Regions from separate parts of the Homo sapiens genome. Here region 2 is linked to region 1. Evidence: fine-mapped expression QTL. A gene starts in region 1. The other region holds a variant in brackets. All regions are shown on one strand. Distances are from middle to middle.

Region 1 (16,773 bases):
CTTCTTTTTAATATATTTATCTTGGGCAAATTCTGTCTTGTCTCGGAATGTTGTACTATTTTCAATTAACTGCTGAACTATTTCCTATAAGAAAAGGAGCAAGTAGATTTTCTGAAACTTTACTTTCACAAAACAAGTAATTTCCAAAGGCTTCTTACCCAAGAATGGATCCAATGGTCTGATTCTCCAATCCCTTTTCCACAGAAGTCCAAATAGATGAACTTTATATTTCTATACTCTATTTGGAATTTATAATAAAATACAAGTACTTTATAACTCCACTTAAACCAACGTAAAAGAACAGAGATATCCAACAAAAGGAGAAGAGAGGTAAAGGAAACTAATTTCTGAAGACACTGGCTGAAAACATTACTGAAAATGAACAAAGTTAAATCCTGATATGCACTGTTATTACATTCTCTACCACTGACATTAGTAATGTCATTCACTTATATTCCTGTATATAAGACATAAAATCTTTGAAATGTTGAGTAACATGTACATTTCAACCTATTTCTATCAAAGCTATAACGTTATTTTTTTGTTTTACCTTAGGTACAGTCTGCTTTAAAAACCCAACAGTTTCCTAAATGCCAAACAGACAAAAACAAAACTAAAAATCCTTTGAATATTACCTCTCCTTTAATGCCCTTGTCCTTCAAAGCTTTTATGTCATCTTGAGTAAGTTTCTGAGATTTCCCATCATCAACTATATTTCGATTATCAGTGCCCGCTTCTTTAGTCTCTAAGGAAAGAAATTGCTCTATTGACATTTATGGTCTGAAATTATTTGACACTTTCTTTTTCTGAGTTCATATCCACATCCAGTCCATCAGCCACTCAAGTCTGGCCTCCCAGCTGCACTGCCCCCATCACACTATCCTTTCCTGCCAAAACTACTCCAAGCCTCTAAGTCATCTTCCTGCTCCCAGTCTTGCCCCCCTACTATCCACCTGGATGCCAGAGTGCTCTTTGTTTAAATGCAATTTGACTCATCTACCCCATGCTTAAAACCATACAGTGGCTTCCCATAGCAATAAGAATACACTCCAAAGATGACCTGCAAGGTCATAAATGATCTGGCCCCTGCCTATCATTCCTGGCCTGATCTCTTGACACTTTAGCTTCAGCCACAATGGCCTTCTTTCTGTTCCTTGAACACACCCAGCAAGGTCCCACAGCAGGCTTTTGGCACCTGCTGCTTCCTCTGCCTGGAAGGTTCTACGACAGATGTCTGAGTGGCTGGATCCTTTCTATCACTTGAGGCTGAGCTCATTCTCTTGCTTTACCAAATTAGTACACGCCCCTGCTTTATTATCTTCATAGCATGTGTCACTTCACCATCAGAAATCATGCTGTTTGCTTGTCTACTTGATTATTTTTGGTGTTCCAACTGGTAAGCACATTTTATACGACAGTCTATCTTATGAACTGCTATAATTGCAGCGCCAAATTATACCTGGCATATATTTGGTGCTTAGTAAAAATATGGATATTAATTTAAATGTATCTAAATAACAGGTTTGACTCAAAACTTTAACAGTATTTAACTTCAAATAATTACTTGTGTTTTAATTAATAAGATACTCTCAATGTTCATTTTAATAAATATAATTTTAATTAACAATAACAGCTTTTGGACAAGAGGTTGTTAAGAAATAATAATAGTAATAGCTAAAATTATGGGCCCTTACTAAAAGCAAGACACTATTCAGAACTTCCTATGAGTCATATCATAGAACACTCAATACAACCTAGGCATTAAATGTGTTTATGACCCTATTTTACATATATAAGGATATAAGACTCACAGAAATCAAATAAGTTGCCCAACGGTACAAGGCAAGTGATGAAGGTAGAAATTGAACTTAGCTGGATCCAAAACCAGACCTCTTAACCTCTACACCATATGCTAACCACCTCACAGCTGTTACATAACTTCTGGGCACTGAAAGAACTTTACATTATGTTCTTGCAATGACGCAGCAACGACTCATAGGATTAAATGCCTGGCCCAAGAACAGAGAACCATTTAATGGTGGGCTGGAGCCAGAATCCAGGTTATCTCATGGCCAAAGGCAGTACTTGCTTCACTCCACTGAGCTGCAGTTCTTAGATTATGAGTTAAGATTTCTTTTGGGATAGCATGGCCTAGCACTTGGGAATTAGGTGGAGGCTGAGATGTTTCTGACTAGTCAGTTGGAGAGCATCTATTTCACGCATCCAAAATGTGCACCTGCAGTAGGCTCTTCCCTCTTCTTCTTGGGCTGTAGACTTCCTCCACTGGTCACTTCAAATGCAGTTCCATAACTATGGCCAATGACGTTATCCAGGTAGAACCACTGTTTTTCGAAAGTTACTTTTCTAGGGAAAAAAAGTAATCAATTAACTGAATATCTTTTCTATCCAGTACAGAAAAGACATGTTCACTACAGTTTATTTCAAAAGTGGTCTCCACAATGGATGATCAGCAGCATTATCTCTGAACATAAAGCAACAAAGGAACTAGAGAGAACCTGGTTGGGATAGAGACGTAAAATTAATGAATAAGCCACAAGAACACTGAATTTTGGAAAGGGGAAGCAAAGACTCATCGAAGTAACAAGGATTTAACAAATTTCTTGGGCTTGGTCTGATCGGCCATTTTATTTGAAAATTATCTAATAAAAGCAAATTATACTTGCAAATAAACACTGACAATCTACACACTTGGAAATGGAGCCTAACACTGACAATGCTCTACTGAGGACCAGGCAACTTGAGGTTTCCTATGACATAGATTTTTTATCTTATTGCAATTTAAAAGAGAAATCCCACAGGAACACAATGCTTTCTTCTCAAAAGAAAACTAACATCTGCTGAGTGCCAACCAGGGGCTAGGCAGTGTGTGCGAGGTGTGATTCACACTTTTTGATTTAATTCTCACGGTAATCCTGGGACATAGCTCTTTCCAGAAGAGCAATCCGAGGCCCAGGGAGAAGTATCTTGTCCAAGATTCACAGTTGCAAGGTGTTGTTGGAGCTGGGATTCAAATTCAAATCTGTGTCTGACCCCAAGCCTCATTCTTTCCACTATACCACACGGTCTACTCCAGCAAAGACCTAAGGACGGTAGAAAGCCCACCTAGCTTCAGGACATGGCCCATGTGCACAGAACACTGAATTCTGGGAATCATGTGGTGGTTAATTCTGATTGTGCCCCATCCCACTCCTTCTCTTCCTTTCTCTGTGCCACCAGGAAGCTGATTACGACAGAATATACTGCCACATCACCCACGCTCCCGTGTCAGAGGCTTACCACCATTGCTGGTCTCTGGGTGTGTCACCTTTATTGGTTCCCTAAATCGGCCACACTTTTGAGTCACATCTTCATTAAAGCTTACTCAAACCATCTGAGGGAAATCCTGTATGATCGTAAGTGATTCAGATATGGCCAATTCTTGTTATTTGCTGGGTCCCTAGATACTTACATACAACAGAATGTAACAGACACTCAAAATATTTGCTAATGTAAACCTCCTCAGATGTTGCAATTCAGCTCAGCCCAGATGTGCACCCCCTATCCTCATCCTTTAATCACCTAGGTGCTTTGAAACACTGGATCTGGCCAGGTGTGGTGGGTCACACTTGTAATCCCAGAACTGTGGGAGGCCAGGTGGGTCACTTGAGTCCAGGAGTTTGAGACCAGCCTGGCTGACGGGGAAAAACTCCGTCTCTACAAAAAATAAAAAAATTAGCCAGGTGTAGTGGCACACACCTGTAGTCCCAGCTACTTGGGAGGCTGAAGCAGGAGGGTCACTTGAATTCAGGAGTTTCTCTACAAAAAGTACACAAATTAGTTACTGAGGAGGCTGAGGTGGAAGATTGCTTGAGCCCAAGAGGCAGTGGTTGCAGTGAGCCAAGTTCACGCCACTACACTCTAGCCTGGGGGACCGAGTGAGATCCCGTCTCACAAAACAAACAAACAGACAAACCAAACAAAAACACTGGATCTGAGATGGGTGGGTTTACCTCTCTGAGAGCCTATGTGATATGCAGAGGGGATGATGCGTGTCACTTAAAACTGGCTGGTTTGACAGGTCACTGCCCCAGTCGGGAATGTGGGGCCCCGTTAGAGGGATAAGGAGGCCACATCTTTACTGGGAAGGAGTAGGATTTGCAGAGTCTACTTCTCAGAGAGCCTGGACTGTTTTTTGCCCAATCAGATGAGTGTAGCCCCAAGGGTGATGAGGGAGTCTGACCTGGGATGCAGCTGAGCTGAGAGAGTCATTTCCTAAATAAAATGGAAACTGCCACTATGACTTCTGCGAAGAAGAGGGCCTGTTGAAAAGTATTTCCAAATAAATGTTTAGGGCAGTGGTCTCCAACCCTTTTGGCACCACAAAAGGGGAAGGTCAACTACTGTTCATGCCTGTAATCCCAGCACTTTGGGAGGCTGAGGTGGCCGGAATTACTTGAGCCCAGGAATTGGAGACTAGCCTAGACAACATAGTGAAACTCTGTCTCTGCAAAAAAAATTAATTAGTTTAAAAAAGAAAAAAAAGAAGAATTTAAAAATGGTTAAAGGTTGGTGCAGGTATTACATTTCCGGACTAAAAGAAACATACCCCTCATAAAAGAAACTTTTTATCTTTACTAAATTAGTGCTTGTGCAAAAAGCTTGGTTATCACCAGCTTAGTGCTCTGGAGACTTGTTTCTTGACTATTTTATGATGCTTGCTTCACCTTAAATACCAGTCAACAGTTTGCTTAAACCAGGAGTAAAAGAATTCATCTGAAGTAAGTACTTATCAGAAATTCCAAATCTCATACTTCCCAGTCTGCAGAAAGCTGTTCTCCTGACATTGCATTCAACTTATCTCTGTCAAAAGTAATACAATAACCTAGCTCAAAAGAAACTGTGGCCAGGTGCGGTGGCTCACACCTGTAATCCCAGCACTTTGGGAGGCCGAGGCGGGTGGATCACCTGAGGTCAGGAGTTCGAGATCAGCCTGGCCAACATGGTGAAACCCCGTCTCTACTAAAAATACAAAAAAAAAAAAAAAAGATTAGCCGAGTGTGATGGTGCCAGAGTCCCAGCCACTAGGGAGGCTGAGGCAGGAGAATCGCTTGAACCTCGGAGGCAGAGGCTGCAATGAGCCGAGATTGCACTACTGCCCTAAAGCCTGGGTGACAAAGCAAGACTCCGTCTCAAAAACAAAAACACTGTGGTTGTATTTCTCAGATAAATTAATCCAAATATCCCAATAAATTTTCACCATTAATAAGCTCTTAGGACTTAACAACCTCACCAGCCCTTCCAGAAAGTTATCAAAATCCCACTTCTTTACTTCTATAAAACAGAGCGATACTAGCCAGCAGGTGCACAAACCAAACCTAATTTGGAGTTCTGAGGCCTTGAGCAAATTGCTTTTTAGCAATTTTCCCAGCGTTGAATCCTTTGGTGAGTAAAACGAGGGAAACTCAAAGTGATTCCACACTCTGTGGTGAATTGTCTCCTTCATCTATTCTGTGTATCCTGCTTGGGTAGAGAAGAGGATAGAAAGCCAGACTAGGTAGGAGACGTTTCATTTTTTGTGGGATAGATCCTGACTGGGGGATTAGGGAAGAAGGAGGATCTATGGTGGAAAAAAAGGGGGAACCTGAAGGAGACTCTGGAGACAAGGATGAGATCCTAAAGTGAAGAAAGGAGGGGGTGTCTCTGGAAAGACAGTGAAGATCCCAAGGTCCTAGGGAAAGAACTTCAGGACAGGTGATTAGGGTGTGGAGAGGGAGGCATTGGCACCCTAGGGCCAAGAATGGAATTCTGGGGAAGGAACTCTGTGGAAAGACTGAAAAGGATGCTGAAGGTGGACGGCCAGATATGAAATCATGGAGGGGGCTCCGGGAAAAACAGGAGGGTTAAGGGAGATTATGAGGTTCGAAGACGGGATCCTGGTGGAAAAGCCTTCTGTGACAGAAAGACCCGAGGAGACAACGAGGGCGGGGAATGGGGACCGAGAGAGCCAAGAATGGCACCCTGGCGGAAGAATTCTGTGGAGAAACCTGGAGGGAGGGGGTATCTACAAGGTGGGGGCGGGAGACCCCTAAAATCAGCGATCTGACTTACTTTCTCCGCTGGACTTGTACTGCTTTAAACACATCTTCACGTTTCAGCACCACGAAGTCGCCGTCGCGGATGCGGTGGTCTCCGGGATGCTGTGGTTGTGGGCCCGGCTGCTCCCCTGAGCCCTCCATGACGCTCAGCCGGTCGCCGTGCTCCACGGCGTCCCGCCCCTCCTCCTCGGTTGTCGCCACCGCCAGCCTCACTTCCCACAACCTGGCGCACTAGGAGCCCTCCGACCGGCACCGCCCCCACGTGTTGCACGCCGCTTCCGCTTTCCGGCCCAGACCTCAAGACCGCTTCCGGAAGCCTCTCGGCTTCCGTCTGGCCAAACTCCTTGATTGGCTGCACTCCGCCCCGCCCCTCTCGTCTTGCCGCTTCTTTGAGCGGAAGTTGGATCACTGAAGCGCCAAAAAAGAATTTAGGGGAAGACCTGATTTTCGCTTGAGGCATTTTTGCGGCGCTGTGCGCTACAGACACCTTCTGGAAGCTGCGGTGGGGAAACTGAGTTTCCCGAGCCGTTGAGACAGATGGGGTTCAGCACCGCGCGGGGACGACAGGAAAGCTGCGGCTGAAGAGAACTGCGGACTTGGCAGGAGTCGCCTGAGGAGCTAAGATCCCGGAGACTCTTAGCCCCGTGGTGCTTCTCTACGGGAGGGAGGGAGGGAGAATCCGGCCGGACAGATCTGCGCGTATCCTGGAGCCGGCCCAGTTGTGAACTAGGAGAGCTTTGGGACCTCTGTCCCAAGCAAGTAAGAACTTTAGCCTTAGGAGATGTAAATAAAGTAGTATTTGAAGAAGCACAGGTACCCAACTGTTTCTTTTTACTCTTTCTCCAGTCCTACTTCTTAACGTTTTTTTGAATTTGTTACTGTTCTCAGCATATTGTCTCGTTTGAGAAGGGTATGGCACGCAGCGTTGTTGAAGGAGCGCCTCAGCTTGGGAGGCTGAAAGTTTTATCTCTGTACTGTCGACAAACAACTTTGATCTTGATCGGTTTGCTTAATTTCTTTGAGCATCAGTTTCATAATGTGTAATGCCTAATTATTGGAGCCCTGTCATGCCGTTAAATCGTGAACTTTCTAGTTACTATCTTGTTTTATTAACTAAACCCCTTTTAAGTAAGGATTTGGGTAGAGTATTTGATAATGAATTGCACTGCAGCGTACAGGTATATCTTTATTTACTTGTATACTTAGGATATGAATCATTTTTAAGTAGACGTGTATTTTATAAGAACAGTTTTGGATTTACAGAAAAACTGCACAAAAAATGGATGTGACACTGCAGGATTGACTGTATGTAAGAAGCTATGATGATGTATCCCTAGTGTCTCACAGGCCAGAATTATGTTCATCCTGTCCTGCCCTATAATAAGAAGTCTCAAATACTGCAAATAAGTTTTCATAGAGTTAATTACCTGTCCTATTTTCATTTCTGTAATGGGGACTTGTAAACAGGTACAGTACCTGTCCTTATTTTTAACCTGTGAGCGTCTAGTATACGTAAACCATATTTAATAGTTATTAAACTATTATGGTATACCTTAAAAAGCGATAGAGATTAGAAACTTAACTGCAGAATATTTGGGTCTTGTATCATAGCTGTACAACTTTGCAAGCCTGTTTGCTACTCTTGAACCTAGAATACATTAATTTTTCCCTTTTTATTAATACATTTTTAAGAGCACTATTTTCCTTACAGTTTTGGTGAAGACCTTTTTAATATCTATCTTTTAGGAGAGATGAATGGAGAGTATAGAGGCAGAGGATTTGGACGAGGAAGATTTCAAAGCTGGAAAAGGGGAAGAGGTGGTGGGAACTTCTCAGGAAAATGGAGAGAAAGAGAACACAGACCTGATCTGAGTAAAACCACAGGAAAACGTACTTCTGGTAGGTGAGGTCAATGATTGTTCAATTTTTTTCACTTAAGGAAGCAATTCACGTCTATCATACAAGGCGGTTTATCTCATACTTCAGTTTGTCTTTTATTTCATGCTACTCCTTAGTAAGTATTTGAACATTGATGTCCCAGATTTTTACTAAAACCCCTAATTTGGATACTCTATTAATGAGAGTCTCATTTGGAAAGAGAAGCATATTGGAAAAATGTTCACTCTGTTTCTACTAACCTAGTATTTTATTTTTTTCAGAACAAACCCCACAGTTTTTGCTTTCAACAAAGACCCCACAGTCAATGCAGTCAACATTGGATCGATTCATACCATATAAAGGCTGGAAGCTTTATTTCTCTGAAGGTAGGGTTTAAAAAGTACAAAAAAGCACCATAAATCATATTTTCTTAACTTGTCTTTGGATGCTACATCTTGTATTACTGTAATTCATTTACTAACATATACCTGCTTTAATCTTAGTTCACCCAAACAATTAAATGATGTTTATGTTTCAAAAGCATTTTAGACTTTATATCAGTCAGGAAAGCAGAAACCATACTAGGTATTTCAAAAAGGGGACTTAATACAAGAAATTGGATACAAAAATGGAAGACTGAAAGAGCAGAAAGGAAATATTGAGGTAACTCCCCAGAAAGTAGTAATTCAGGAAGCAGCAACCATCCTTATGGCTAAGAGACTAAAAGAAGTTCTGAGGTTACCAGAATGTGGGAATTCAAAGGTTGGAGAGGTCACAGCATAGCTGTTATTTTGACTTTTGAGGGGCACCCTACAAAGCTATGCTTGGACTTCTGAAGGCTACCTTACAGAGCTGTGCTTAGACCACTAAGGCAAATGAAGCTGGTTGCCACTGGTAACTGAGGGGGCATGACTCAGTGGTGCTTGGAACTGGAGGCTAGCACTATCGTTATCTTCTGCAGCTGCAGAGATGCTGAAAAGAGTTGGAAACAAGAATAAATTCCTTTCTCTTCCTGCCACCTTCCCGTCTCTAAAGTGCCTTCAATTGGCAGAATTTAAAGAGAATCTGAGACATGTAGGGTACAGATCTGAATTATAGCATCGCAGAGCAGGAAGTAGAACAGTGGGCCTGAAATCAAGGGACAATAACAAATACAGCTTTGTGTAGAAACACAGGTAAGGAATCTCCCTTTGATAATTAGGAATACCAATTAACCTACATCAGTCTGTATAGGTGCAGGGAACTGTCTTTTTTGTGCTGTTAAAATACCCATTTGTTTCTTATGTCTCATGAGGGGTGTGTGTGTGTGTGTGTGTGTGTGTGTGTGTGCATACTTTTTATTTTTTTTTGAGATGGAGTCTTGCTCTGTTGCCCAGGCTGAAGTGCAGTGGCGCGATCTTGGCTCACTGCAAGCTCTGCCTCCCAGGTTCACGCCATTCTCCTGCCTCAGCCTCCCGAGTAGCTGGGACTACAGGCACCCGCCACCACGCCCGGCTAATTTTTTCTGTTTTTAGTAGAGACGGGGTTTCACCGTGTTAGCTAGGATGGTCTTGATCTCCTGACCTCGTTATCCGCCCGCCTCGGCCTCCCAAAGTGCTAGGATTCCAGACGTGAGCCACCGCACCCAGCCGCATACTTTTTTTTTTTAGGAAAACTAGACGTTTGAGGTCCAGGACCCTCCCTGCCCCATACCAGGCATGCAGTAGTCATTTTGTGAATGAATAGAGTACTTTACAAATGTTTTCTTTATTGGAAATCTGTTCGTTTTTTTCCATCAATAGAATCTGTTTCATGAATGATCTTTTGTTCCTTTAGGATGTATTAGCCACCAGCACTCCCATTGCTCCCCTAGCAGATAGCTCAGAACACTATAAGTGATCTTTGGACAGTCCTAAAGATGGAGTTCAAGAGGTGCCTTAGCCTTCACCATCTGTGCTTCCAAACTACTTTATTGTACTGTTCTTCTGTGAGAGACATATTTGAAAATGTAGAACTTTAGAGTGTTAAAAAAAAAAAGGCTTTTCAGTTTTGCCACCAGGGTCAAGTGTTGGTCTGTCTCCTGATCTCAGGAAAGACTGTGATTGTGATTGTCTTCAGCTCTGTCAGAGTAAGAGCTTAGTTTATGTGTCTGGCTTTGGCTTTATTATAATTTTTAGTTTAAGCTTATTGTCTAAATTATCTGAACTAACATGTCCTATTAGGTGTCAAAGATGCAAAACAAAGTTTCCCAGATAGTGGGGCTTTTAGAGAGAGAGAGTTTCTGTCTGCATTTCACATTATGCAAACCTAAATTTGTTTTAGAATCTTAAGTTTACATTCTATACTAGTTCTTATATGAATGTAATCAAAATACAAAGCAATTAGAAAAAAATCATCTACCATGTATATAGTGCTGCTTTTGTCTCATGAAAAATGTGCATGTACCTGTGTGATTATTTGTGCTAATGCCATATTTGTTGGATTAGTTTACAGCGATAGCTCTCCTTTGATTGAGAAGATTCAAGCATTTGAAAAATTTTTCACAAGGCATATTGATTTGTATGACAAGGTAAGATTCCTCTACAGCAAAGCTACCAGTCATGTGCCATCTTACCAATGTATTCGAGGTACTTGTGATTATGATCGTAGGCACTGGAGTCAGACTTCCTTGGTTCAGACCTCAGTTCTGCCACTTACCTGCAGTATGGACTTTGATTAATTACTTCTCTGTGCCTCAGTTTTCTTTCATTTGGAGATAGAGGTATAAATACCTACCTCAAAGGATTGTTAAGAGGCAGTAATACATTAATATATTTAAAATATCAGAACCATGCTTGGCACAAAGCTTATACTTATGTCATACTTACCATTATCACATATAAACATTGTATGCTTTCTCAAAGTCTATAATAGAATGCTCAGTTAATGGTAATTGACTACAGAAAAGCAATTATTGTTTTCATACTTTTATATTTTATAGGATGAAATAGAAAGAAAGGGAAGTATTTTGGTAGATTTTAAAGAACTGACAGAAGGTGGTGAAGTAACTAACTTGATACCAGATATAGCAACTGAACTAAGAGATGCACCTGAGAAAACCTTGGCTTGCATGGGTTTGGCAATACATCAGGTAACTATTTGTCTTATGCATACTTTTGTCTAAACTTTTTTAATGTTTGCACACACATGCACACCTTGTCTAAGTTTAAAGGAAGATTTTACAGTGACTGTACTTTCTATAAGAGATACTTAGCTTTTACGAAAAGATGTTGGCTAGAACTGAGAGGTTGCAGTTCCGTTCTGAAAGATACCATTCATTCTATATACAACAGCTTATCTAAATGAAATATTTACCTCCAACTTATTTGGATTTGCTTAATCTTGCTAAAGATTGTGCAGAAATTAAACTTTGCTTTCAAGAAGTTATACAATCTCATAGGGAAGATAAAACAAGGAATCATGGTGTTATCGGTTATGAACTTAGAGCAAAAAAGAGCAACCTTAGATTTAGGTTCTGTGGCATGAAGCAAACCACTGAGTGTCCCTGTATATCAAATGTAAATAACAGTTTGTACTGTGCTTGCCTGAGTTTTTTTTCAGGGTCAGGTAATACAACATATATGAAAACATTTTTAACTTTTTAAATTTTTTAAATTTATTTTTTATTTATTTTTTTGAGATGGAGTTTCACTTTGTTGCCAGGCTGGAGTGCAGTGTCATGATCTCCGCTCACTGCAACCTCTGCCTCCCGGGTTCAAGTGATTCTCTTGCCTCAGCCTCCCGAGTGGCTGGGTGCACCACCATGCCCAGCTAAGTTTTGGAGTTTTAGTAGAGACGGGGTTTCACGATGTTGGCCAGGATGGTCTTGATCTCTTGATCTTGTGATCCGCCTGCCTTGGCTTCCTAAAGTGCTAGGATTACAGGCATGAGCCACCTTGCCCGGCCAAAAACATTTTTTAGGCTAGCAAACAGATACATGCTTCAAGGTAATGAATAGCAAATCTCAGGACAGGCATACACAAAGTGCTGGGGCATTCAGAGGGGCATTCTTCTACCTCTTGCCTGTGCTGTCCATTCAACATAGAATCCCCTTCCCTTCACATGGACAGATTATTTGGGCCTAGCTCAGTTGTCTGTCTGTAAAACCTTTCTCATGACCACTTTTCGAAACTTGCATGGTATTTTGTCTGTACATCTTTATGGTCCTTATGACAATTACAGCTGTATATATGCATCTTATTTTGCCTCTTAGGTTGCCAGCAAACTGCTGTGTACAAGTGGTATTAAATGTTTGTTTGTTGTTTATTTATTTATTTATTTTGAAATGGAGTTTTGCTCTTGTTGCCCAGGCTGGAGTGCAATGGTGTGATCTTGCCTCATTGCAGCCTCAGCCTCCCAAGTAGCTGGGATTATAGGCATGCACTGCCACACTTGGCTAATTTTTGTATTTTTAGTAGAGATGGGGTTTCACCATGTTGGTCGGGCTGGTCTCAAACTCCTGACCTCAGGGGATCCACCCACTTTGGCCTCCCAAAGTGCTGGGATAACAGGTGTGAGCCACTGCGCCCAGCGTGTTTATATTATTTAATGTTAAATGCCAAGGGAGTGAGTATTAGGTATTTTAAAGGTCATTTTTATTTTCTGTGTCTTGATTGGTCAGTGAATATAGAGAAATAGGAATGCATTTTTTTTTTTTTAATTAGTATCAAGAGGTGATGGTTTTGGGGACTAATGTAAGGGCTTTTAATGTTAGGTTTAGTTGGGACAGAAAGTAGCAGACTGGGATGCTGGAGTTTTTCAGCACAGGGACAGCAAAATCCAATGTAAAACATCCACTATAAAGTAAGTAGTCATAATTAAATATTAGATATTTAAAGGGCTGTTAAAGTTTTCTGTTTTTATTCTGTTTCTGTCCATAAACTTTATATTCTCTATAAAAATAGAGTTCTGTATAAAGAGGATGTTTTGTTTTCCAACTTCAGAGTAAATGTCTGTCCTGTTTAGGTGTTAACTAAGGACCTTGAAAGGCATGCAGCTGAGTTACAAGCCCAGGAAGGATTGTCTAATGATGGAGAAACAATGGTAAATGTGCCACATATTCATGCAAGGTGAGGAATTTGATGTATTAAAGTATTACTTAGAATGGGACATTGAAGGCCATTTAAGAATGAAAACGCTCATTTTATAAAAATGAGGAAATCAGTAAAAAGGACATGAGTTCCTTGCCATCTCATTGATCATCACACTGAAATAAACTCATTGAAAATTATTCAAAGACATCATGACAGATACTTCCTAAATAAGGAAGAAAATGTTGATTTCCTAACCTGCAGATTTTTGTAAACATTGGTTTTGGATGTGAACTTATCAAGACCCTGCTGTGTAAGTTTAATAATCCATGTATGGGTTGAGTATCCCTAATCTGAAAATCTGAAATCTGAAATGCTCCAAAATTCAAAACTTTGAGCCCTGACACGACACTGAAAGGAAATGTTCATTGGAGCACTTCAGATTTTTGAATTAGAGATACTCAACTAGTAATATTGCAAATATTTGGAAGTCCAAAAATTCCAAAATACTTCTGGTCCCAGGCATTTTGGATAAGGGATATACTCAGTCTGTAATACACTAAGTGTTCTTTGTTAAATTATTAGGTTTTTGTTAGATACAAGGGAATAATGAAATTATTTTGTTTTTCTTGAATTCATCTTTAAGATTTTAAATTCATTAGAAGAATTCATTATAAGGTAATCATCAGCATTTTGTTTTTCTTTTCCAGAATTTATAGAAGAAAATTTCCTAGCAGTTCTTTAAAAAGAACTTAGAAACCCAAAGGTTTTTGAATCTGTAGATTTTCCTTTTGGCATTATTTTTTTCCTTAAATTTCTTTTTTCTTTTTTCCTTGAGAACAGCCTGTGAGACAAGAAGAAAAAGGAAGATTTAGTGTTGTTTCTTGTTAAGAATGGTTTGGCTGGGCACGGTGGCTCATGCCTGTAATCCCAGCACTGGGAGTCCGAGGCAGGCGGATCACGAGGTCAAGCGATCGAGACCATCCTGGCCAACATGGTGAAACCCTGTCTCTACTAAAAATACAAAAATTAGCTGGGTGTGGTGGCACACACCTGTAGTCCCAGCTACTCGGGAGACTGAGGCAGGAGAATCACTTGAACCCGGGAGGCAGTGGTTGCAGTGAGCCAAGATGGCACCCCTGCACTCCAGCCTGGCAACAGAGCGAGACTCCATCTCAAGAAAACAAAACACAACAAGAATGGTTTAATTCTTGTGATATTTCTGATATATCGAAGGGATGATTTGATTTGAGAATTCCATAGTTGCTCCTAAAAGGAACTTGTGAAAATATAAAAAACATCAATTTTCTGTTCATTACTTCCTGTTTTGTCTTTAGGGTGTACAACTATGAGCCTTTGACACAGCTCAAGAATGTCAGAGCAAATTACTATGGAAAATACATTGCTCTAAGAGGGACAGTGGTTCGTGTCAGTAATATAAAGCCTCTTTGCACCAAGATGGCTTTTCTTTGTGCTGCATGTGGAGAAATTCAGAGCTTTCCTCTTCCAGATGGAAAATACAGTCTTCCCACAAAGGTAATACGTTCTTTAACTGCTTCTTTATTTATCTTGGTAAAGAAGGCAAATCAGAATACAGAAAACATTTCCCAGTGTTTCTGAACACAGAGCTTATTTTTATTTTTTATTTTCAATTTTCTGCTTTTATATTATGAAATACTTCAGGGTAAGAAAAATACAGAAATAAATAAAACATTCCACTACTCATCACCCCGAATTTACATTTTTCAGCTCCGGACACATTTTTTAATGATATAAAGCATTACTGGCACAATTAGTGTCTGTTTTTTACCTATACCATTCCCAGGGATGATCATTATCCTGAAGTTATTATAATATGCATCCCTTCCATTCATATTTCTGTTGACTTCTAGGTATACACACCAAGTTTTTTTTCCCCTTTATTTCTTCTACTATTTAGAAGTGATGGGTTTTTTAAATCTTTATTAGCCTTTATTAAACTGGATTTTAAAACTATAGAAAAGTGCAGAGAATAATGTAATTAACATTTATCTACTCTATGATTTGGCAAATATTAATATTATTTTAGCTTAATTTGTAACAAAAATATGGTTATATAAAGTTGAAGTCTTTCTGTTCTCAGTTTTATTCCCTTTATTTGCTCCCTAGATGCAACCACTATGCTGAAATTGGCATGTATTCTTCAAGTTTACATTTTTATTCTTGACTACATGTGTAGAGTTAGTTTTTTGTATTGTGTTTACGTAAATGGTATCCTGAATGTAACACGCAGCTGTTTTTTTATTTGGTTATTTTGTAGTTCTACCTATTTTAATACATATCAAATTCTTTCATTTTTACTATTGTGGAGTGTTGCTTTAAATAAATAGCCACAATTTATCCATTTTCCTGGAGGTAGACAATTGTGCTCTTTCCAGTTTTTTATAAGAACAAATGATACTGCAGAGAACATTCTTGTACATGTCTCCTTAGCAGAGGAATACTAAGTTGTAGGCTGTACTTTTTTTTTTTTTTTTTTTTTTTTTTGAGACGGAGTCTCGCTCTGTTGCCCGGGCTGGAGTGCAGTGGCGCGATCTTGGCTCACCGCAACCTCCGCCTCCTGGGTTCAAGCAGTTCTCCTGCCTCAGCCTCTCGAGTAGCTGGGACTACAGGCACGCGCCACCATGCCTGGCTAATTTTTGTATTTTTGGTAGAGACAAGGTTTCACTATGTTGGCCAGGCTGTTCTCAAACTCCTGACCTGGTGATCCGCCTGCCTCAGCCTCCCAGAGTGCTGGGATTGGCCGGCTGTACTTATTTTTAACTGTATTAGATGTTACCAAATTACTTTCCAGAGTATTGTTCCCAACTTAAATCTTTGCTGGTAGTGTTAAGTAGTTACCATTTCTCTGTCTTTTCATTAACACTTGGTATTGTTAGACTTGTACATTTTTGACAGTTTGTTAGGTATAAATAATACTGCATTTATAATGTGAATTTTTCTGATTTCTGTTGTGGTTGAGCATCTTTTCATATCTTTACTGGCCATTCAGTTTCTTTATCGAATTTTCTATTTATATCTAATGTTCATTTTCCTGTTTATTGGTTTATTCTTTAATTTTGTTTTTTAGAGATGGGGTCTCATTCTGTTGCCCAGGCTGGAGTGTAGTGACATGATCATAGCTCATTACAACCTTGAACTCCTGGGCTCAGGTGATCTTCCCATCTCAGCTTCCCACGTAGTTGGGACTACAGGTGCCAGCCACTGTGCCTGGTTCTATTAGTTTATTGATAGGAGTTCTTTATACATTCTAGATACTAATTATTGTTGATTATATACATTAGATATTTTCTCCCAGTCTTTGGTTTGTCTTTTAACTTTGTGGGTTTTTTTGTTGTACAGTTTTACATTTTGACATGATCAAATTGTTGTCTTTTCCTCCCTAATTTGTATATTTTATGCCCTGCTTAAGAAGCCGTTCTTCGGCTGGGCTTGGTGGCTCATGCCTGTAATCTCAGCACTTTGGGAGGCCGAGGCGGGCAGATCACCTGAGGTCAGGAGTTGAAGACCAGCCTGACCAACAGGGAGAGACCCCATCTCTACTAAAAATTCTAAATTAGCCAGACGTGGTGGCACATGCCTGTAATCCAAGCTACTCGGGAGGCTGAGGCCGGAGAATCGCTTGAACCCAAGAGGCAGAGGTTGCAGTGAGCCGAGATCACGCCATTGCACTCCAGCTTGGGCAGTAAGAGCGAAACTCCGCCTCAAAAAAT
Region 2 (16,773 bases), 43 kb after region 1:
AATATAGGTAAGATAAAAATTTCAAATTGTTTTAAATGAAATACCAGTTATCTTCCCATCTCAAATTAGGTAATAGGCCAAGGCTACTTTTATTTAGCCCATTGGGTCACTTATTTTCCTCCTAAACAGAGTACCGTTTCTTAGTTTAAAATATTTCTCACTGTGTAAATAATCTTTACATTAGAAATTTTTTTGAATGAGTAATACATTTACATAGTGCTAAAATCAGTTCCAAAACCTATTGGAGAAGAGCTATTTACCACCTACTCGCCCTTCACCCAGACACCCATTGCTTTTCCACAGTCTGCTGTTTATACTCTTCTGTACTGGTTTTGAATTTTAACAATATATCCAGAGATCTTTTTTTATTAGAGACTCTTTTTTTATAGCTAGAGTATTCTATTGTGTAGATATACTATATAGTATATTTGATCAGTCCCCTATTGACACATAAATATTTTCCATTCTTGTGCTTTTAAATAATGCTACAATGAGTAATGTTCTACGTAAGATACTTCATATGTGGGTAAGTTGTGCACCTACGTGATAAATTCTCAGAAGCGATATTTCTGGGTTCAACAGTAAATACTATAGGTTTTTGATAAATATTGCTAAATTGTATCCTTTGCATTTTACATCATTTAGTAGATAATGATTCCTAGAAGGTAGAAAAGAAAAATTAGTTGAGCATATATGTTTACCTTAGACATAGATTTTTAAAAATCAGTAATATTATTTTGGGTAGTTTTTTTTATTCCAGATAAAAAAATTTTTTTAATAGGTCCATACTTTCATAAGCTTCAAAATTCCAAAGTTCAAAAAGTATAGGCCAGGTATGGTGGCTCACACCTGTAATCCCAGCACTTTGGGAGGCCGAGGCAAGTGGATCACCTGAGGTCAGGAGTTCGAGACCAGTCTGGGCAACATGGTGAAACCCCGTCTCTACTAAAAATACAAAAAATTAGCTGGGCGTGGTGGCTAGTGCCTGTAATCTCAGTTACTTGGGAGGCTGAGGCGGGAGATTTGCTTGAACCTGGGAGGTGGAGGTTGCAGTGAGCTGAGATTGTGCCACTGTACTCTAGCCTGGGTGACAGAGCAAGACTCTGTCTCAAAAAAAAAAAAGTATATAGTGGAAAAAGTTTCCTCCTACTCAGCTTAATAGTTACCCCGTTCTTCCTGCTAGCCAGTGGCAATTATTAGCAGTTTTTTGTGTGACTACATATCTATATATTCTTTTTTCCCCTTTGTAGACAAATGGTAACTATAACAACATACCATATACATGCTATACCTTGCTTTTTTCATTTAAAATGCATTTTTAATATCCTCTGATAGCAATGAAAATACATTATCTGTTAGGAGTCTACTTTTCCAAGACCAAAAAATATATTGAAGATGAAATTATCTAATTTTGTTAAGTAATTTCTAATTCTTCTAAGGTAGATGAATTCTTTTGTCCTAGTAGCTGCTGATTCTGAGGTTTGCGTGGTGTCAGAACCAGGTGGTTTTGCCCAGGTGGTTTTGCCCAGCTATTCCCCTTTGGCTGTGAATAAAAGTGCAGCATAGCTGGAAGAGCAAGGGCTTTGGAGTTCAACCTGGAGCTGCCATGGCAGGTTACACACTGCTTCTCAGTTTCCTCTGGTGTAAAACACACCACAAAGGATTGTGCTCTGAGGTGTCATGCAGTGATGCTCAATAAAGTGACGAATACGGTTCTGATACATTAGAGAACACTCAGTAAACACTGTTTACTATCAATAGCGCAAGTCTTTTTTTTTTTTTTTTGAGACAGTCTGGCTCTGTCGCCCGGGCTGGAGTGCAGTGGTGTGATATTGGCTCACTGCAGCCTGCGCCCCCTGGGTTCAAGCAATTCTCCTGCCTGAGCCTCCCATGTAGCTGGGACTACAGGTGCATGCCACCACACCTGCTAATTTTTGTATTTTTAGTAGAGATGGGGTTTCACCATGTTGGCCAGGATGGTCTCAAAGTGCTGGCCTTAAGTGATCTGCCTGCCTTGTCCTCCCAAAGTGCTGGGATTACAGGCATGAGCCACCACGCCTGGCCTGATAGTGTAAGTTTTGTTGATACTCAGATGAGGCTGAGCAGATCCCCTTTTCTCTGAGTTATACCATAAACCAAAGGCCTCAAAAACTGGCAGATCTCACCCTAGATAAGAAGTTTCCAAAATCACCCTTTTCAAAGAATTTTTATGGTCTAGTCCTCAGTGCTCTCCATCTAAATTGTGCAGTATGTCTTAGCTGCAGATCCTTTTCTTCTTGTCTTTTCCTCATAGGGAGAGACTTTACCTAGTTGTCTCTTTGTCCCCAGCCTGGTACTGCCCCATCCCTGGAGGCTGCTGTCTTCTCTCTGCTGCCTCTAGAGGTATGCAGATGGGTAGAAGGGCACCCATGTCACCTCCTGAAGGTACAAGAATCTGCAGGTTGTTTCCTGCCCTTAGAGGGAGTCCATGGAAGAAGAGGAACCTTTCTCCTTAATTCAGTCTCAGAGTTTGTAAGCAACCGTGAGGTTCTACTGGCTGTCTTTGAAAGCTTTAAAGATTCTAGAATTGACAGCTCTTAATTTTTTATTGGTGGCACCAAAGTAACTGCCTCATAATAAGAAAAATTAATAATTATTGACTCCCAACCCTTTGAGCTAATTTCTAACAACTTACCTTCTGTGTCTAAGTATCCTATTGGTATGGCATCACACAGTGCTTTTTTTTTTTTCTCTTTTATTTAGACAGAGTCTCACTCTGTCATCCAGGCTGGAGAGTACAGTGGCGTGATCTCAGTTCACTGCAACCTCTGCCTCCTGGGTTCAAGCGATTCTCCTGCCTCAGCCTCCTGAATAGCTGGGATTACAGGCACCTGCCACCACGCCCAGCTAATTTTTTTGTATTTTTGGTAGAGACGGGGTTTTGCCAAGTTGGCCAGGCTAGTCTTGAACTCCTGACCTCAGGTGATCTGCCCACGTTGGCCTCCCAAAGTGCTGGGATTACAGGTGGGAGCCACCGCGCCTGACATCACACAGTCCTTGACCCATCAATTTTCTCTCTTTATGTGATTCAGTACTAGGGTTTGAGGGATCTTGTAGCTGAAAATTTTACCAACCTGGCTTTAGTCCCTCTCCAGTTGATCTCATTATGTTGGAGACCCTCTAGTTGCCATTTATAAGCAACCAGATAGTCTAGGAATTTACTAGACTTTCTCATACAACTTGCTGCTAGGGGCATGGTGTGCTAGCATATGAAGTAAAAGAATGGCCACAAAATCTAGTTGTCTGCCTGACTTCTTGTGGGTATGGCTTTCTAAGAGACCAGACTAGAGACTGACCTAGCAGAGATATTTTTTCCCATTAGGAAAGTAAGTCACAACCCAACCAAAATTTCAGAATTTTTTTTAATTTTAACTTTTTTTCCTATAAAAAAAACAAAGACCAAAAATAGGCACTTCTTATTTAATGATGAGAAGTTGCTTGTTGACTTACAGTCTAGAATGTGTGCATCTTGCTTTCTCTGCATCCTGCACTTGAACACTCCACCTTTGGGAGTGTGGCTGAGATTCCCACTCCTGATTTCTTTTTCCTTTTAATGATCTCTGGCCCTCTGGGTCTTCTGGTGCCTGGCTCTCCTGAATGTCATGTTTCTACTTTGTAGACTGTTCATCTGTCGAGCAAACTAAGGGGTACACTACCCTGCTCCTTTTCTCTCTTAACCTGTAACATTCTCCTCTTGAGGCTTTACCATTGCTCAATTTCTGCAGGCCTTAGACCATAGACGTCACCTCAACTGTTTACTGTTTCCCCACAGTAAATTCACTGGTCTGTGGACACGGTAGATTAGTTCTCCTATCTGAGCATCATGCTTAAGCAGAGTAAATTAGGCTATATTTACCTTTTCAGTAAAAATGCTATATTGCCCATTTATGGTTGGTTATACTTGGTATAAGATTTCTCTGCATGTCTGAATACTCATGTTGGACAGTGTTTGCATGTGCTTTCCTGTCCAAGAGGAACTCTTAAGTGTTGTCTCATGGAACTCTGTATTTGTACTGCTTCCCAGAGTTGCTTTGGTGGTAAATTTGAACAAGTTTCAGATCAGTTTACATCTGGGCCCCTGAAAAAAAGAGGTCTTATTATTAAGTGTAAACAGTACCCACATGACATTACCAGATTGTTTCCCTGAATTGTCTCAGTATGTTTACTGGCATTCATAAAAATTTTCAGGAAAAAGAAAATAGTTTGATTGGAATTACCTGACACTATGTTCATGGTAGAGATCAAGATCCAGTGAAACACAATGAAATTAGATTATGAATTATCTGTTTGTTATGCTCAACATGCATTCTTTCCTTAGTTTATGAGAGCAGGGACCTTATCTGACTCATTTACCAGTATATTCCCAGGGCCCAGAATCATGCCTGTCATAAAGTAGGCCTTCAGTAAATGTCCTGCACTGATAGTAAAGTTGACCTTAGTAATGATTCATTCATTCATTAAATCTTCCATTTCAGAGTTTTCATCTCTTCAGCTTCGTTCAGTCTTTGCCCTTAATGTGGTTTTAAACCTTTTAAGATTACATTTTAACTGGGAAGCTGACAGTTGAATAAGAAAATTCTTAAACTGTGACATAGCTTGTCTGAGTTACCAGAGCACTTAGCTGTATTTTAAAAAACTAAATGCTTATATTTAGTAGACAGTTCACATAAGCTTTCTCCTAAAATTGAAAACATACTAGGTAGCAGAAGAGAACAGAGCCACCTTCAAAGGTGAAAGATCATTGTTTTTTTCTATTTCAGGAAACTAGCTCAAATATTTTACATAGCTTTTTAAAATCTGAAGCAGTGTAGCAGATTCAAATCTGAGATATGCCACTTACTAGTTGTGTAACTTCTGGCAAGTCACTTTAATCTTAGCATAGGTTGGTGCAAAAGTAGTTGCAGTTTTTGCCATAAGAAAAGCAATTTCAAAAACCTCTATTACTCTTGCACCAACCTAATAAGAATGTTTTTTCATCCGTAAAATGGGAATAAGAATAGTTCCTAAATCACAGGATTGCTGGGAGGATTAAGTGGGATAGCCTATGTTAAACAAATATAATTAAGATAAATGTTACCTATTATTATTAACTGAAAGCATTTTTAACAACTTTCTCATGAGAAACAAGCATATGGGAGGTTCATCTTAAAAGAGATTATGCTGTATTTCAGAGGAAAACACTTACCATCTTACTGTTTTATCATTTTTAATAGTTTTATTTGAATGACTCATTCCTATTTGCATAACGTAGGCTTTTAACTATTCAAGGAACAAAAGGAAGCTTTATTGTTTATAACCCATTAAAATCATTCCTGCAGCTCATTAAGGGAAGGGATTATACCTGTTTTGTTCACCACTATAAGCCTGTTGCCCAGCAGGTGACCAGTATGTATTTGACTAATTAATTAATTCCTGATTAAATAACAGTTTTGCCAATTAGTCTGGCTGTGAAATATAGCTATCCCATTGTTGAGGCAGGGAATCAGCAATAGAGTTGGATTAAACAGGATGGTTAATTATGTTTCTAACTAGTGTTTTCAGACTTTAGCTAAAATTCACTATCAAGTACGTACTTCTTTCCTTGGTGATATTGTGAAAATTAGAGAAAGCAGAAGAAATCTGGCAGTAATAGGTGCATCCTTTAATATCTAACCAGTATCACTGCAACTCACCATAACCTTTCTAGTTCATTCCTAGAGTATTTTAAATACCTTTTATTTAAAATACTGGTGCGGCCAGATGCTGCTCCAGGAGATGGGACACATTTTTATTTAGTGAAGTCTAAATTTATTATATTTAGAATTTCTTTTCTTCATGAATCAAAAAGAATGTCCCAGGTATTTATATTGTAGTTTATCAATTTTGTGTTTTTATGCATTTCTCTCTCCAAATTTAGAAGTTTCTTAAAAGCAGTAACTGTGTCCAAAATATTTTTATTCCTTATCAATCCATCATAGTGAATTTCAGAGTGGCCCCTCAATAAACACATGTTGAAATGTTTGCTAAGTGAGCCTTGTGGCTACTTCCAAATTTTTCTTCTGTAACCTGAAAGCCCAGGACAACAATTTCTATGGCAGTGCTACATTGGGTAATTTTTTCTTCCTTTCTTTTTAAGCATGCTAGGAACTTACTCTGATGAATTTGGGAACCTAGATTTTGAGCGATCCCAGCATGGTTCTGGAATGAGCAACAGGTCAACAGCGAAAAGATTTATTTCTGCTCTCAACAACGTTGCTGAAAGAACTTATAATAATATATTTCAATTTCATCAACTTCGGCAGATTGCCAAAGAACTAAACATTCAGGTATGTTAAACTAGTTAATCTCTTTTGTAATAATTTCAGGAGGTCCTTGTTAATATATAGTAGAACAGAAACAGTTTTTACTTATTTAAAATTCATACCTGCTTCTTCTCAAAGGTTTTCAGCATCTTGATAGTCAGAGGGAAACATTGTAGTAAGACAGTCTCTATGTTTTTCTGACTGTCTCTTGTGGATATGTCATTTTAACATCTTTTAACGTTGCATCCCTCATCTGTTAAATGGACATGATTATACCAATTCCTACTTCAAAGTTCTCGTGAAAATCAATGTAATAGCACTTCAAACATGGGCTGTTACACATTATGGAAAATTAACTTCTTAATTTCAAAAGTTAGCTTGATTTTTTTCAGCTAACCTAAAACAAATGTAAAATATTCTCTGCATATTGGAATTTTTACTTTTTATTTATTTAGGCATTATAGAATCCAGAACTCAAATATAGGCAGTTTGCTCTGTAAGAAATAAAAATAATTTTATTTGGCCAAGAAACTTTACAGGTACATATTATTATTTGAGAGATTTATTTTAAAAGTAATATTTTGACATGTTACTTAATGGGCTAAACCTTTTGATGTTTTCTTCCAGGTTGCTGATTTTGAAAATTTTATTGGATCACTAAATGACCAGGGTTACCTCTTGAAAAAAGGCCCAAAAGTTTACCAGCTTCAAACTATGTAAAAGGACTTCACCAAGTTAGGGCCTCCTGGGTTTATTGCAGATTAAAGCCATCTCAGTGAAGATATGCGTGCACGCACAGACAGACAGACACACACACACACACACACACACACACACACACACACACACACAGTCAAATACTGTTCTCTGAAAAATGATGTCCCAAAAGTATTATAATAGGAAAAAAGCATTAAATATAATAAACTAATTTAAGAAGTGATAAAGTCTCCAGATGCAGTAGCTCACACTGTAATCACAGTGACTCAGGAGGCTGAGGTGAGAGGATTCCTTGAGGCCAGGGTTCGAGACCAACCTTGGGCAACATAGCAAGACCCCATTTCTTAAAAAAAAAAAAAAAAAATTTAAACTTAGCTGGGTATGGTGGCACATGCCTATAGTCTCAGCTACTTGTGAGGCTGAGGCAGGAGGATTCTTTGAGCCCAGGAGTTTGAGGTTACAGTGAGCCACAATCACACCAATCACTGCACTCCAGCCTGGGCAATAAAGTAACTCTTGACTCAAAAAAATAAAAAAAATTGTAGTGGTAGCCATGTGTTAATTGTTAAATAAATTCTCCAAAGGGCTAAAAGTAAATTACTTATAAATTTTTTATAGTTGTATTTTTGACCTGCCTTTTATATGTATGAATATTTCATAGTTTTGCATATCAGATGTAGGCATACAGACAAATACATAAACCAATGAATATATTACATATTCTGTGTTCCAATAAAACTTTATTTATGGACACTAAAATTTGAATTTCATAAAATTTTCCCATGTCAAGAATACAAAATACTTGAGTTTTGTTTTTAGCTATTTAATAATAGGTCTCATTTATTCCACAGGCTGTAGTTTGTAGTCTTGCTTGAAACAATAGAAACAGACTGATTAAGCAGGAGAAGTTTTTTGAAAGAATTTTGTTTGGCTCACGGAATTATTAGAAGGCAGGTGAACCAGGAGGGTAAGCTTCCAGCAGCAATTTGTAAAACCATGCCTTAGAATTGGACTAAGGAAGAAGCTGCTGACACTCCACTGCCACACAGGGCACTGGAAGAAAGTGCTGCTGCCTCCCTGCCCCACCTTTGCCACTTCTGCAGCAGGAATAGGTAGAAGAATGCCCCCACCCGCACCGGAACAGCAACAAAAGGATTCTGCATGAGATGCCTCCCTAAATTGCTGAATTCAAAAAAGAAGTTGCATACAAAGACATCTGATTGAAAAAGGGTATGTTATATGCCCCTTTCATAGGCTGCTAGGGAGTTTTCCTGGTTCTACTTTCAGGTGGTGGGATCAATAAGACCAGAATTTCTCATATGTTGTGAGAGGATTCAAATGTTACAGGGTTGCCAGCCAAACTATCAATCATGTATAAATCCAACAAACACTTTGTAACATACAAGAACTCAGGAAATGTGAACCATTGTTGGAGAATCTACTAAAATACGGCTTCCCGCAAACGAAGATGAATGGAAAATGTAAATAAAAAGAACTGGCAGTGTATATCAGATGTTTAACTATAGGACCAGAACTAAGATGTGGAGACTATTGCCATAGACCACAATGTAAATTTTTAAGTGAGGAAGGAAAAATCAGGAATCAAAAGGGGCCAGGTGCAGTGGCTCACATCTATAATCCCAGAGCTTTGGGAGTTCGAGGCAGGAGGATCACTTGAAGCCAGTTTTGAGACCAGCCTATGCAACACATTGAGACCCTATCTCTACAAAAAATAGATTAGCTGGGCACGGTGGTGCATGCCTATTGTCCTACCTACTGTGGAGGCTGAAGTAGGAAATCACTTGAGCCCGAGAGTTTGAGGTTACAGTGAGCTATGATTATACCACTGCACTCCAGCCTGGGCAAGAGAGCAAGACCTTGTCTCTTAAAGAAAAAAAAAAAAAATGGAGAAAGTAGATAGTAGTATAAATATAGTGAAGTCTTTAAAAGCTAGGAGTTAAAAGATATTTAAAGCAAATAACTCAGGCATGGTGGTGTGTGCCTGTAGTCCCAGCCACTAAGGAGGCTGAGGCAGGAGAATCACTTGAACCCGGGAGGCAGAGGTTGCAGTGAGCCAAGATCGTACCACTGCACTCCAGCCTGGGCAACAGAGTGAGACTCTTTCTCCAAACTAAATAAGAGATATTTAAAGCTGAAAAAAAATCTATTAATAGAATTTAAAACATTTCACAAAAGTCAACACATAAATAATATCAACCAAAATAAAGTGGTAGACAGAAGAGAAAATATACTAATTTATTGTTCAAAGAGGAAAATAAGTCTCAAAGGTTAAGGCTATTATATAAATTTATTTTTAAAAAGACATAAACCTACATTTTCAGAAGAAGAAGTTCCATGTTTCCTTAGATTATGTATTTAGCATCCATTAATCACAGGGCCAAACTAACAACAAAAGTTGTTTAGCTTTCCCTTACAATCCAGCTTTTATGGGTGTGCAAACATCACATTACAGTCCCTCCAACCACAAACCCCAACATATAGTATTTCACTTCCTGCCCAATAGTGGGTGTCCCCACACCTTTCAACCACTGTAGCAACAAAGCTCTGGCCTAGGCTTTTCACTTGCTTCTTTACTGCCTGACTGACTTTGGTGTTTCCTCATGTGGCCTGGTGTGGCATGGCACGCCCTCTTGGGAGATGAAAGTAATCTTCCATAGGCAATTGTTTCTGTGTCACCATTGCTGATTAAAACAAATCCTAAGTACAAATGTCAGAACAGAAACATGCAAAGCAAGAAAACATTACATCATGAAAGTTTCTTTTTTTTTCTTTTTTCTTTTTTTTTTTTTTTTGAGACAGAGTTTTGCTCTTTTTGCTCAGGCTGGAGTACAGTGG[C/T]GCGATCTTGGTTCACCGCAACCTCCGCCTCCTGGGTTCAAGCGTTTCTCCTGCCTCAGCCTCCCAAGTAGCTGGGATTATAGGCATGTGCCACCATGGCTAATTTTGTATTTTTAGTAGAGACGGGGTTTCTCCATGTTGGTGAGGCTGGTTTTTAACTCCCGAACTCAGGTGATTGCCTGCCTCGGTCTCCCAAAAAGTGCCGGGATTACAGGCGTGAGCCATTGTGCCCAGCCAAAAGTTTCTTTTTCAAGAGATGGTGGTCTTGCCATGTTGTCCAGTATGGACTTGAACTACTCAGCTCAAGCAGTCCTCCCACCTCAGCCTCCTGAATAGCTGAGACTACAGGCATGCACCACTACACCTGGCTGCGAGATGAAATTTTAAGAGATGGGGGTCTTGTTCTGTCGCCCAGGCTGGAGTGCAGTGACATGATCAAGCCGTGATCTCCTGGGCTCAAGCAATCCTCCTACCTCAGCCTCCTGAGTAGCTGGAACTACAGGAATGCAACACCATGCCCAGCTAATTTTGATTTTTAGTAGAGATGAGGTCTTCCTTTGTTGCCCAAGCTGGTCTCAAACTCCAGGGCTTCCTGAGTAGCTGAGACTACAGGTGTGAGCCACCATGCCCAGCCTCCTCTCTTTTCCAATATTGTGTTAAGTAAATTGTATTGGTGGTAATCAACTTGATCATTTCATTTTTAGGATAGAGATATCAAGGTGAGGGTATAACTGAACGAGAAGAGGAATAAACACCACCCTGTGATTGATGGATCTTTATAGCTCTCCTTTGATAAAGAAGGGAAATATCGTACTTACATTAGCATGTTATAGTTGCTGTTGTTATACAGAAGAATATTAAACAATATTCATATATTGTTTATGAATGCATTGAATTCATAAACAATGGTATGGATATTGACTAGCCAAAGAGGTGGATAAATGTAGATACAATGATACGGTGATTTGGTATTCAGTGTCCATTCTGCTCTCCTAGTGTGCCTTCCTATAATGCAGGGGCTGGAAGGTGAGAAAATAACCACATTTCCCAGACTCCCTTTGCAGGTAGATTTCCAGATGTGAATTGGGTTCCACTGATCAGACACCCATGTGTGAGATTTGGAATGCAGAACTGAGGAGAGAGCCATCTTCCTCTTGCTTGTGTTCTGGTGGCATGTGTGGTTGAGGAGACATTTAATTTCCCTGCAGCAGAATTCTTGCAGTCAGTTGTTGAGGCAAGTGGCGTGGTGGATGCAACCCTGATTCTTCACCTTTCTCATTATTGTGGGGTAGCAGCGCCTCTGGCAAGCCAGACAGACCTGCAGTGTTTTTCTGGGAGTTAATTCTGGAGACCCAGTATGGAACCCACTCCTAGCCCTTGTGACAATATTGCAAGCATCCAGTTCCCTGTTTTACAGTCCTTTTAAATGTGGCTAGCTACAGTAGTTTGTGTTTCCTGCAACTAATCACTCATACATCTGTATCTAAAGCACTCCACCTGGGTCATGTACTATACTTAAAATTATAAGGCAATATTAATTCACAAAACTACCTACTCGTTTTATTTAACCCTCAGAAGAACTGAAAACAAAAGCTATACCAGGCTTGCTCTAGAGCGTGGGCTTGGGAATGGAAAGGCAGAGTGCACCTATTGAATTCCATCATCAGTTTTTCTATACCATGGAGTTACTTACCATGTGTATACATAACACTGATTAAAAATTTTAAAAAAAAGGTTAAAACAAAAACTGAGCCAGATTCTGACATTTAAATCAGAATTATTCTTAGTACATAGACTTGCAAAGTCACTGAATAATTCCTTGGGACTACAGACTCTTAGTCTTTGCTTCTAGAAATGTATAGTAATTTCAACATGTCATATATATAGAGAGAGTATATATGTGTATATATATACACACACACACACACTATATAGAGTATATATATACACTCCATATACAGTATATATACTAGTGTGTATATATATATACACTAGAGTATACACACTCTAGAGTATACACTCTATAAAGTATATATATTATATATACTATATATTATATATACTATATACTCTACAGTATATATATACACTATAGAGTGTATATATATACTATACAGATATGTATAGAGTATATATACTCTATATATACACTATATATAGTCTATATACTCTAGAGAGTACAGTATATATATATAGTGTATATATACTCTATGGAGTGTATATATATTCTCTTTCTCTCCATATATATATATATAGTAATCAGCTTCCTCAGGTTGAAACATCTAGATATATTGAAAACACTGGATAGTCTGCAAACTCCTCTTCCTTAGAGAATGTATATTATCTTTAGTATTAAAGTGACTCTTGTAAGTCCTGAGAAACACCTCGGAACACTGCATTCACGTGTTTGCTAGGCAGAATAGTACCCACCCTGCAAGACATCACATCCTAATGCCCAGAACCTGTGAATGTGTTAGGTTACATAGCAAGGGGAAATTAAGATGGCTAATCAGGTGACCTTAAAATAGGGAGATCATCTTGGATTATCTGCATGGGTCCAATATAATTAGAAAGAACCTTTAAAGTGGAAGAGGGAGGCAGAAGAGAGCCAGAGGAAGATGTGACTACAGAAGAAGGCACGGATGCAGCATTGCTGGCTTTGCAGATGAGGGAAGGAGGCCTTCAGCCAAGGACTGTGGGTGGCTCTAGAATCTTTTTTTACATCTCAGTATGTATGCCACAGTTAAGGTTTTTGTTTTTTTATTTTTGAGATGGAGTTTCGCTCTGTCATCCATGCTGGAGTGCAATGGTGAGATCTCGACTCACTGCAACTTCCGCCGCCGGGGTTCAAGCAATTCTCCTGTCTCAGCCTGAGTAACTGAGATTACAGGTGCGTGCCATCATGCCCGGCTAATTTTTGTATTTTTAGTAGAGACGAGGTTTCACCATATTGATCAGGCTGGTCTCGAACTCCTGACCTCAGGTGATCCGCCCACCTCGGCCTCCCAAAGTGCTAGGATTACAGGTGTGAGCCACTGTGCCCAGCCTCACAGTTAAGGTTTTTAAACAATCTGATTTAACTGAATAAAAAATGCTCGCTTGTGTGGCGACATGGTTTTTAAAAATGTAAACAGAGCTGGGCATGGTGGCTCACATCTGTAATCTCAGCACTTTGGGAGGCCAAGGCAAGAGAACTGTTGAAGGTCAGGAGTTGGAGACCAACCAGCCCAGGGAATATATAGGGAGACCCTATCTCTTAAAAAAAAAAAAAATTACCTGGGCATGGTGGCATATGCCTGTGGTTCCAGCTACTCAGGAGGCTGAGGCAGTAGGATTGCTTGAGCCCAGGAGTTTGAGGCTGCACTGAGCCGTGATCACACCACTGCATTCCAGACTAGGTACAGAGCGAGTCTATGTGGAGTGCAATGTCTCTAAAAAAAAAAAAATACCCAAAATATAAACAGGGACTATGAGGTATGTACAGGAAATTAATAGCTGAAGAATATTTTACCATGTTCAAAAACTAAATTCTTCATGTGGCTGAGAGAAGAAAGAAAAAAATGGTATGTTTGTGTTCCATTTGCAGGTATTACATAAACCCATTTTAAATGAACTAAAATGCCTAGGATTTGGGGGGGAAAAATTATCTTGTGCTCGCATTTGAAGGTTCTTCTCAGAAATAAACTGTTTAAAGAGACCACAGTACTGGTTTAATTTTTTTTCTGCAGGACCAGAGGGAAACAGGTGGTTTACCATTTTTGGAAACTCTGTCACATGATCTGAATAGAAAGGATAGTTGGATGTAACGTTAAAGCTTTCTGAACCAGCAATCCCCAACCTTTTTGGCAACAGGGACTGGTTTCAAGGAAGACAGTTTTCCACGGACCTGGATGGGGGAATGTTTCGGGATGAAACTTCCACCTCAAGTCATCATTAGTTAGATTCTCATAAGGAACGCACAACTTAGATTCTTCGCATGTGCAGTTCACAGTAGGGTTCACCCTCCCATGAGAATCGAATGCGCTGCTGACCTGGCAGGAAGCAGAGCTCAGGTGGTGATGCTCGCTTGCCTGCCGCTCGCCTCCTGCTGTGTGGCCTGGTTCCTAACAGGCCATGGATTGGTACTGGTCCACAGCCCAGGGGTTGGGGACCCCTGTAACAAAAGGAAAACAAGATTCTTAAATCTTTACAGGAAGGAGGAATGGAATGGAAAATAAAGCTAGTTGTACACTAAATGATGTTAACAATCCCTTTATCACCTTTAAAATATGAGCAGAGAGGAAAGAAATATTAAAACCAACCCTTTTTACTTTCTTATTTGTAGATAATGCCTGCCTTACGAGAATGTTATTTCTTTTAAAGGTTCCAAAACAACCATATAAAAACTTAGTAATGACTTAATTGTTCACATATTCTAGTGACATCAGTACATTTTCAGGAAGAAATGTGGAAAGGTTGGCACTAGAAGTTGACATAAGAATTAGTTTAGCCAGGTGCAGTGGCACATGCCTGTAGTCCCAGCTACACAGGAGGCTGAGGCAGGAGGATTGCTTGAAGCCAGGAATTCTGGGCTATTATAGTGTGCTATGCTGACTGGGTGTCCACACTAAGTTCGGCATCAACATGTTGATCTGGGAGTGGTGGACCACCAGGTTTCCTAAGGAGGGATGAACCTGCCCAGGCCAGAAATGGAGCAGGTCAAAATTCCCGTCCTGGTCAGTAGTGGGATCGCCCCGTGAAAAGCCACGGCATTCTAGCCTGGGCAACATAGTAAGACCCTGTCTCTTACATAAAAAATAAAATAACAAAAATGAAAAGGAGAATTAGTTTAGATCTCTTGATAATTTAAACAGTAATCTAAATTATAGAGTTTAGGTGGAGTTAATCTCTGCAAGTCCTGAGGAGCTATGCCCAAGGTGCTTGGCCCTACCAGCAATGCACTCTTTTGCTTACATGTGTTTCAAATCTTAAATCCCATCATTTAGTTTTTTCCTATTTAGGCTGTGGGACGGTGCGTTTATTACAATGATTGAAACCTGTGCCTTATTTGGATTACTGGTTATTCAAAACACATCTTTGGGTTTAGTGCCTGGTAATTACAGCTTACTCCTGTAAGATTTAACTGTCATTGATTCCTAGAGAATTTTTTTTGAGACAAGGCCTCGGTGGGTCACCCAGGCTGGATGGAGTGCAGGGGCACAATCTCGGCTCACTGCAACTTCTGCCTCCCTGGGCTCAAGCGATCTTCCCACTTCAGCCTCCTGAGTAGCTGGTACCACAGGCACCCACCATCATGCCCAGGTTTATTTTTGTATTTTTGGTAGAGATGGCGGGCGGGGGGAGCCGGGGGGTACGGTGTGCGGGGCAGGGGGGTGGGGGGGTGGTCCTCACAGTGCCCAGGCTGGTTTCGAACTCCTGAGTTCAAGCAGTCCACCCACCTCGGCCTCCCAAAGTGCTGGGATTACAGGTATCAGCCACCATATCCAGCTGTTTTAATTTGATTTAACTTCCAATCAATATTTACATAAGACTCATTTGCAAAACTGCCTTCTTTACATTATCTTCTTCTGGTTTTAGGAAACAAAAAGTAGCCCAAGTTTATTGTGTCCTAGACTAAATAACACAAGTAACACTACATTACACTGCATATCTGATATAAGAACGCAGTACACATATTTCTAGACTTTGTTCATTTATCCCCAGGCAGAAAATATTCATAATAGATTTGGAATAAGATTTTCTTCTCAAAAAGCTTAAACTTCAAATAGAAGTGATAAGTGAGAAAGAATGATTGGGTTGCAGAATTTTCAAAAGCCTAAAAACAGCCTGGGCATGGTGGCTCACACCTGTAATCCCAGCACTTTGGGAGGCCGAGGTGGGCAGATTACTTGAGGTTGGGAGTTCCAGACCAGCCTGACCAACATGGTGAAATCCTGTCTCTACTAAAAACATAGGAGTTAGCAGGGCGTGGTGGCATGCGCTTGTAATCCCAGCTGCTTGGGAGGCTGAGGCAGGAGAATCGCTTGAACCTGGGAGGCGGAAGTTGCAATGAGCCGAGATAGCGCCATTGCACTCTAGCCTGGGCAAGAACAGGGCGAGGATTCATCTCAAAACAAAACAAAACAAAACAAAAAAACAAAAACAGAAAGCCTAAAAACAGGTTCCAAGAAGTTGTAGCAAAGAGGTAATTTGTTCCAATATACAGCACAGTCATACACAGCACTTTGCAACTTAACCAAGGAAAACATTAAAAGTGGCAAGACAATACTACCCTCTAGGGGCCAAATTTTTATGTTCACAACTCAGCAAAGGATCAATGAAAGGATGAACTAAACAGTTAATAACAGGCCAGTTATTCAAGATTGAACAATCCTTTCTCTTTTCACGTTCTCTTGGGGTAAGCACTACATGATTGACTACAGAAGTTGGGATAAGACACCTGACCAGTACATTTTGGTTACTTATGAAAATAATTCTGATACAAGGGTGGAGAGAGAAAAATTTGAAATGAACTTCATGAAACGTAGAATTTATATATAGATTTTTATTTATATTTTTATTACAGACTTACTATTCTAATTTTTTCCCCATTTGGGAAAAAAGTTCAGTGACAGATATTCCCAGTCCCTTCAGACATATGAGGTGCCTGTGTGTTTAATCTACTTGGATAGAAATTATTACAGAATTCATAAAACAGGAAATGAACATTATAAACCAGTTACTAACTGTAGAATATTTTGGTTTCCTCTGCCCCCTGCCCTGCTCTAAACTCTACTTCACTGGGTTTCTGCATTTTCTCCATCCTTTATCCCAGATTAACCTGTTCATTTATTGACTTCTGTCAAGTTCTAGAAAATGAGATCAAAGACTGATAGCTGGA

Alleles and levels. Positions count from the first base shown, and alleles are read on the strand shown. Sizes are in standard deviations (SD) of each study's normalised expression.
In carriers of allele C in region 2, the expression in thyroid of the gene that starts at base 6,483 in region 1 tends to be higher than with T alone (moderate effect, 0.69 SD a copy in GTEx).

What was found. PIP is the estimated chance that this variant, and not a neighbour inherited with it, causes the effect.
Region 2: its variant is the best candidate, but not a certain one, in a credible set for the expression of MCM8 in thyroid (GTEx, PIP 0.88).

The regions. Positions count from the first base shown.
Region 1 is chr20:5,944,170-5,960,942 of GRCh38, forward strand. MCM8 (minichromosome maintenance 8 homologous recombination repair factor) reads left to right here and starts at 6,483. Exons shown (of 19, transcript NM_032485.6): 1 at 6,483-6,854; 2 at 7,842-7,994; 3 at 8,255-8,359; 4 at 10,439-10,521; 5 at 10,933-11,082; 6 at 12,957-13,060; 7 at 14,359-14,557. The coding sequence starts at 7,847. TRMT6 (tRNA methyltransferase 6 non-catalytic subunit) reads right to left here and starts at 6,364. Exons shown (of 11, transcript NM_015939.5): 1 at 6,109-6,364; 2 at 2,237-2,364; 3 at 636-745; 4 at 1-84. The coding sequence starts at 6,236. RefSeq lists an enhancer at 6,360-6,499.
Region 2 is chr20:5,987,352-6,004,124 of GRCh38, forward strand. MCM8 (minichromosome maintenance 8 homologous recombination repair factor) reads left to right here. Exons shown (of 19, transcript NM_032485.6): 17 at 1-7; 18 at 6,155-6,344; 19 at 6,948-11,626. The coding sequence ends at 7,040. It overlaps MCM8-AS1 (MCM8 antisense RNA 1), which reads right to left. Exons shown (of 5, transcript NR_110101.1): 2 at 13,925-14,046; 3 at 13,170-13,324; 4 at 6,443-6,573; 5 at 3,444-4,117. It also overlaps the pseudogene RN7SL498P. Among named protein-coding and RNA genes, the nearest start is that of MCM8-AS1, 10 kb to the right of the region's middle. The variant C/T (reference allele first, on the strand shown) is at 9,894.